Regions from separate parts of the Homo sapiens genome. Here region 2 is linked to region 1. A link means that fine-mapping ties the variant in region 1 to the expression of a gene that starts in the linked region. Tissue or cell type: pancreas. Region 1 holds a variant in brackets; the other region holds the start of a gene. All regions are shown on one strand. Distances are between the middles of the regions. Region 1 has its middle 28 kb from the start of MICALL2. Region 2 holds the start of MICALL2 (MICAL like 2).

The links. PIP is the estimated chance that this variant, and not a neighbour inherited with it, causes the effect.
Region 2: MICALL2 starts here. The variant in region 1 is fine-mapped to the expression of MICALL2 in pancreas (GTEx, PIP above 0.99).

Annotation. Positions count from the first base shown.
Region 1 is chr7:1,430,435-1,433,328 of GRCh38, forward strand. No RefSeq gene overlaps it. Among named protein-coding and RNA genes, the nearest start is that of MICALL2, 28 kb to the right of the region's middle. The variant A/G (reference allele first, on the strand shown) is at 1,274.
Region 2 is chr7:1,458,084-1,460,977 of GRCh38, forward strand. MICALL2 (MICAL like 2) reads right to left here and starts at 1,387. Exons shown (of 17, transcript NM_182924.4): 1 at 1,101-1,387. The coding sequence starts at 1,243. It overlaps MICALL2-DT (MICALL2 divergent transcript), which reads left to right and starts at 1,836. Exons shown (of 2, transcript XR_001745046.2): 1 at 1,836-2,184. RefSeq lists enhancers at 1-63, 64-786, 2,210-2,761, 2,762-2,894, 2,850-2,894 and a silencer at 1,160-1,879.

The DNA.
Region 1 (2,894 bases):
GGCAGGAGGTGCCTGGTGTGTGCCCGCTGGCAGTGGCTCCACTGCCCACCCCACGAGACCTGATTCAATCCTCCCACCCCGGGCAGGGCAGGGGCAGCCCCGGGGGTCCCACAAGTACGAAACCAGTCAGGCTCAAGCAGGTCTGTCTCCCTGGACCAGTGGACCAGGTAGCAACCCTGGGCCAGGTGCTAGCCCCCTTGACAGGTGAGAAGACTGAGTCCTGGAGTGGCGTTGAGCCCTGGTGTCATTCATTCATTCAACAAATCCTCATCAGGCTCCTGCCGTGTGTCAGGCACTGTTCTAGGCGCTGAGGATGGCGTGGCAGAAAGACGGAGGAGCCGGGACCTCCGGAGGATCCGTCACAGAGAGGAAGCCCAAACAAGCATCTAAACATAGGTGCGTTCCGAGTGTTGGCAATAAACCAGGGTGGCCGTGTGCTCACGCCTGTCATCCCAGCAGTTTGGGAGGCCAAGGCAGGAGGATTGCTTGAGGCCAGGAGTTCAACACCAGCCTGGGCAACATGGCAAAACCGTGTCTCCACAAAAAAAAACTTTAAAAATTAGCCGGGCGTGGTGGCGTGCGCCGGGTGTCCCAGCTACTCGGGAGGCTGAAGTGGGAGGATCACTTGAGCCCAGGAGGTCAAGGCTGCAGGGAGCCGTGATCACGCCACTGCACCCCAGTCTGGGCAACAGAGTGAGACCCTGTCTCTAAAAAGAAAGAAAGAAATCAGGGTGAGGGGCAGGAGCTTCTCCGAAAAGGGCAGTTAAGCAGAGATAGCAGGATGCCAGCTATGTGGAGTGCAGGGGCCCCAGGAGCAGGACCAGCAAATGCAAACGCCCGTGGCCAAGGCCCGGCAGCCGGAGCGGAGGGGGCAAGGGTGACAGAGGTGAGGCTGGAAGAACTCCTGGGAATCAGCCCAAGCCTGCCCTGGCTTCGCAAGGGGTGAACACAAGTCCCCACCAGCTGCCCCCACCCTCCCACAGACCAGTGCCCTGTAATGGCTGGGCTGGCCCCCTGTGCCCGGCCTGGAGGGGCCACTCAAGTCCAAGTCCAAATTCCAAGCATCCCAGTGGAGACTCTGCTTGGTCCAGCCTTGCCTCCCTCCTTGTCCCTCCTGACGCAGCCACACGGGGCCAGTGTCAGCTCCCCACCCCAGAGCTCACCAGAAGGACCACACCGGTCCCTGAGCCCAGAACACTCCTCAATCCAGCCCTTGCTCCCCAGACCTGAGGCTGTAGTATTGAGGCCAGTGCAGATACAGGGGCCGACGGGG[A/G]TGTGGGTCAGGGAACAGCTCTTCCCCTTCTCTGCGGCCCCACCCACCCCCATATCCATTCAGGAAGACTGGCTGTTCCTAGCCATGTCTGTAGAGAGAAAGCCTCTGATGTGCATGGACTGCCTGCCACGTGCACAGGCACGAGACGCTGGCCCGGAGTCTCTGGCAGGTGTGGGTGACGTCCAGCCAGGCCACTGGGGAACTGCGTGCCTCTGCCCTCCCTGAAAGTTGTGAGGGGTCATCTAGGGTGGGTGGGGCCCGGGCTGAAACTCTTCCACATTGGGGTTGGGGCAGCCTCTGCAGGAGCCGGGCGGCGGCGCAGCCAGCCCCACCTGTGCCCGAGTGGCTGCTCAGGGGTTCCCACGCCCATCCTCACAGCCTCCTGCAGCACAGGCAGCACAGGCATCACAGGGCCTGGCCAACGCCCATGGCCCCAGGGCTGCGTTCCTGCCTGTCTCTCCATGATGGTGTCACCGGGGTCTGCAGGTGCTGGGCCCCTGGTGGACAGCAAGGACATCCCGCAGGGCTGGCTTAGTGCCTGGCAGACCTGACCACTTGTTGCAGGGGCTCTGATCACTGAGCACCAACTGTGTGCCCAGCCTGGAGCGCACCTGGCACCCCAGGGCTGCTTCTGAGGTCCCCAGATGCAGGGGGCTGATGGTGGGGGCGGAAGCTTCCTGGCCCTGCGGTGGGACACCCCCAGGTGTGAGTCCACAGCAGGACCGAGCCCCAGGTGCCCACGCCCCTAACTTGCTGGACAACACTCCCTTCCCGTTCTGGTCTCAAAAATGCTACGCAGCCCCCTGCCCTGGCCCCGCCTCGCTTGCTGTGTGACGTGGGAGAGCCGTAGCCCTCTCCCAGCCTCAGTTTCCCTGTCTGAAAAACGGAGCTATTCCAGGCTCCCGGCTGCCCCTCTCCACTAAGTGGCTCTCTGCCTCCCCCTGGTGGTGAAGAGGCCACACTGCCGCGGGTCAGGCCTTACGACGTGAGCACGGGGCTGAGATCCCAGGGGGACCCACGGGGCTGAGATCCCAGGGGGACCCACAGGCTCAGCTCCGGGACCCGGTCCAGACCGCCCTCCACGGCGTCATGCTCCTAACACAGCAGAGGCCCTGGGGCTTCTGCTCAGAACCACCCCAGGCACCCAGTGCCTGAGGAACGAGGCCACCTCGCTGCACCTGGAAGGTCCCTGCCGGCCCAGGTCCTGACAGAGCCCCTCTCTCTCCATCACCCGCTCCGCCTCACCTGACCCTGACCCCGGCCCCGCCCCAACCTGCCCCACCACACATCTTCAAGCTCCCAAGATCACTGCCTATGCTGTTCCTGCAATAGGGCACACCCTGCCCATCCACCGAGAGACCCCTACTCCTCGACACCCAGGTGAGACCCCCCCCTGCAGAAGTCTCCTGGGGGCTCCAGGGTCCCACTGCTGCCAGCCACTGCCTCCCAGTCCTCGGAGGGCACAGGGAGTTTCCACCAACACACTCGGTCCCAGTGGCCTGACTCCAAGAGAGGCCTCAGGGCCAGGCAAAGCACGACCCCGTTCCCCACTCATTGCTGTGTGCAGGTGACCCATGGCCTCATCTGGGGGAGCCCCTTTCCCTCCACGGGGGCCCCGAGT
Region 2 (2,894 bases), 28 kb after region 1:
GCATGTCACAACCTCAGAGCAGGGGCCGAGGCTGTTGCTCAAGACCCCAGCTTCCTGCAGAGAGTGGGACTGGCAGGACAGTGTCCAGGGGCACAGGGGAGGAGCCCCGGATCTGCGCAACGGGCTGGGGCTGTGTGACCTGAGCAAGGACCCCTCCTCTTAGCCTCGGTTCTCTGGTCTGCACAGCTGCGGCCTGACAGAGGCCCCAGGTGCTGCCTGTGGCTCCTCCCAACCCCGAGACCTTCCCACCAAAAACACACTCAGGAGAACGCTTTGCCCAGAAGGTGCCTGGGCTGCAGGTGGCCGTTGAGGGCCCCCCTTCCTGAGCGTCTGGCCCCCAGCCCCGACACACAGATCTCTGTCCCAGCAAGCCTGGTCCCAGTCATTTAGCCAAAGAGCGTTTGCTGAGTGAATAAACAATGGAGCAGGTCCAGGCTCGGGCCAAGATTCAGCAACGGGCAGGGCCAGCTGCCCAGCTACACACGCCAAGACCCTCCTGGGGAGAGACAGCCTAGTCCTCAACCCCTGCCACCTCCTGCTGCTCCCAGAGATGGGGGCTGTTCTCCATCTCGGGCCCTATCACCCGGGGCCTCAGAGGCCCGGCTGGCAGCAGCACCTGGGGTCTGGGGGCTTCCTGCCCTGCACTGGCCGCTCCCCCACAGTGGCCCTGGCCACATCCCCCCAGGGGCCTGAACAGGCTGGGGGAGGGTCAGTGCCCATACGAGGGCTATCCAGGGACCCCATCTGGTGGCCAGGCCCCTGGGCAGTGAGAGCCTCGGAGGGCCCAAAGAGGCAGCTCTGCTGGCCTTTCCCAGGGACACAGAGGGGGACTGGACTGAAGCCAGGGCCCAGGAGCCGCCCTGAGTCACGTCTGACTCAGCCGGCGGGCGGGGGATGCCATGGCTCTGGCCCAGCTGCATTCGGTGTCCGGGCACACTGAGGCCACTGAGGACAGCCTCGGGGGGCTGCACGGTGGGCTGTGCCTGCCCAGTCCCACGCCTCGGCTCCCCATCCCCCAGCCGCCCGGGCCTCAGTTTCCCCGCCCGTGTCAGCGCGCAGCCGAACAGCAGAAGAATCAAAGGGCGCCAGGCAGGACTTACATGAGGTCGGGCCGGTGGCGGTGCAGGATGGCGCAGAAAGCCAGGCCGTCGCGGAACGACGTGGTCATGTTGCAGATATTCACGTCGCGGTAGCCCTCGCACTGCTGCCGGCACCACTGTTGCAGCGCCCTGATGGCCGCCATGTGGGCGGCGCGCCCGCCGCGCGGCGGAACCGCCCTCCGACACCTTCCCGCGGCTGTGCCGCGACCGCCCGGCCGGCGGGACAGACGCTGGGACCGCTACGGAACCGCCAGACCCACGGCGCCCAGCCCCAGCTGAGCCGGACTGAGGGCGACGAGTGCCGGGTCCCTAAGAGAAGCCGAGCCCGGCCCCGCCCCCGCCGGCCCCGCCTCCTTGTAGGCCCCGCCCCCAGCCGCCAAGTCCTGCCTCCGGATAGGCCCCGTCCTCACACCTCCCAGCCCCGGCATAGGCTCCCGCCCAGGCAGGCCCCACCTCCCGACAGGCCCCGCCCCCAGCCGCCGGGTCCTGCCTCCTGATAGGCCCCGTTCCCACGCCTCCTGGCCCCGGCACAGGCTCCCGCTCCAGGCAGGCCCCGACTCCGGACAGGCCCCGCCCCCAGCCTCCAGGTTTTGCCTCCCGAGAGGCCCCGCCCCACGCCGCCCGGCCCCAGTACGGGCTCGCGCCCTAGGCACGTCCCGCCTCCTGGTAAGTCCCGCCCCCACGCTGTCAGGTCCCGCCCGACAGGCCCCGCCCCACGCCGCCTGGCCCCTCCCCAGGCCCCGCCCCGCCGCTGAGGGCCGAGACCCCCAACCGGTGAAGGGGCGCGGTCTGCTTGGGGGTCCTGCCATTCTGGACCCCTGCGGAGACCTGGAATTTTCTTTTTCGCCGCCCCACCTCCCACCACCATCTCACCCCACCGCCATGGAGAAGAGGCAGGAAAGGCCGTTGACAAACGGGGACACTGAGGCTCGAACACCCTGCCCTGTCTAGGGCCTCAGCCCTCGGCAGCCCGGCCTCCCGGGGAGCAGGAGGCGCCTTGTGTTTCAGGGTTTCAAAGGACGTCCGCATCTGGTTTCTCTTTCCAGGCCGCTACATGCCAGCGGGGGTTCCAGGCAAGGCAGAGGTGAGGCCTGGGCATTGCCAGAGGAGAAACTGAGGCCAGGAAGGGGGCCGTGGAGCCGGAGTTGCACAGCTGGCCTGTGCTTTTCTTCTGGGGGCCTGTGGGCAGGATCTGTTCCTGGGGCAGGAGATTCCTCAGGCTGACTTGCAGGGTAGTTCCAATTTTCCACTTTGAGCTGTGACAGAAGAAATAAGGAAAGTCCCTCTGCTGGGGCCCTAAATTATCCCAGACTGGCCCCTGGCCCCGTTATCCTTGGGGAACCTTGTCTGTGGCCACGGGGGCTGGACGAGGGCGGAATCACTGACACCAGCCATGTGAGGGGGGCCTACCCTCCTGGCTGTGGGGCCAGGGCTTGTCTGGGCAGGGCCTGCAGGAAGGAAGGTGTTTTCCCGCAGTAGCCCCTGGCAGGGAGTCAGGGCAGCTTCTCTGTGCCCCTTGGGAGGAGGAGAAACTGAGGTCTTCCAACCCCAGCCAATGGTGCTGTTCCAGATCTTTTCTGAGGCTGGTCCCTGGTGAGACACCGTAGTGTTCATGGCCAGCTGCCTAAGTGTCAGTGAGGCCTGTGTGTAGGTGGTGAGCTCCCCGTCACCAGGGGCATGCAAGCAGCTGCTAGGCAGGGAGCCCTTGTGGCCTGGGAATGTGGCTGGCCCTAACCGCTGCTCCGCCACAGTCCCTGACCTGCGGATGTCAGGGGATATCGTGCCAGCACAGCC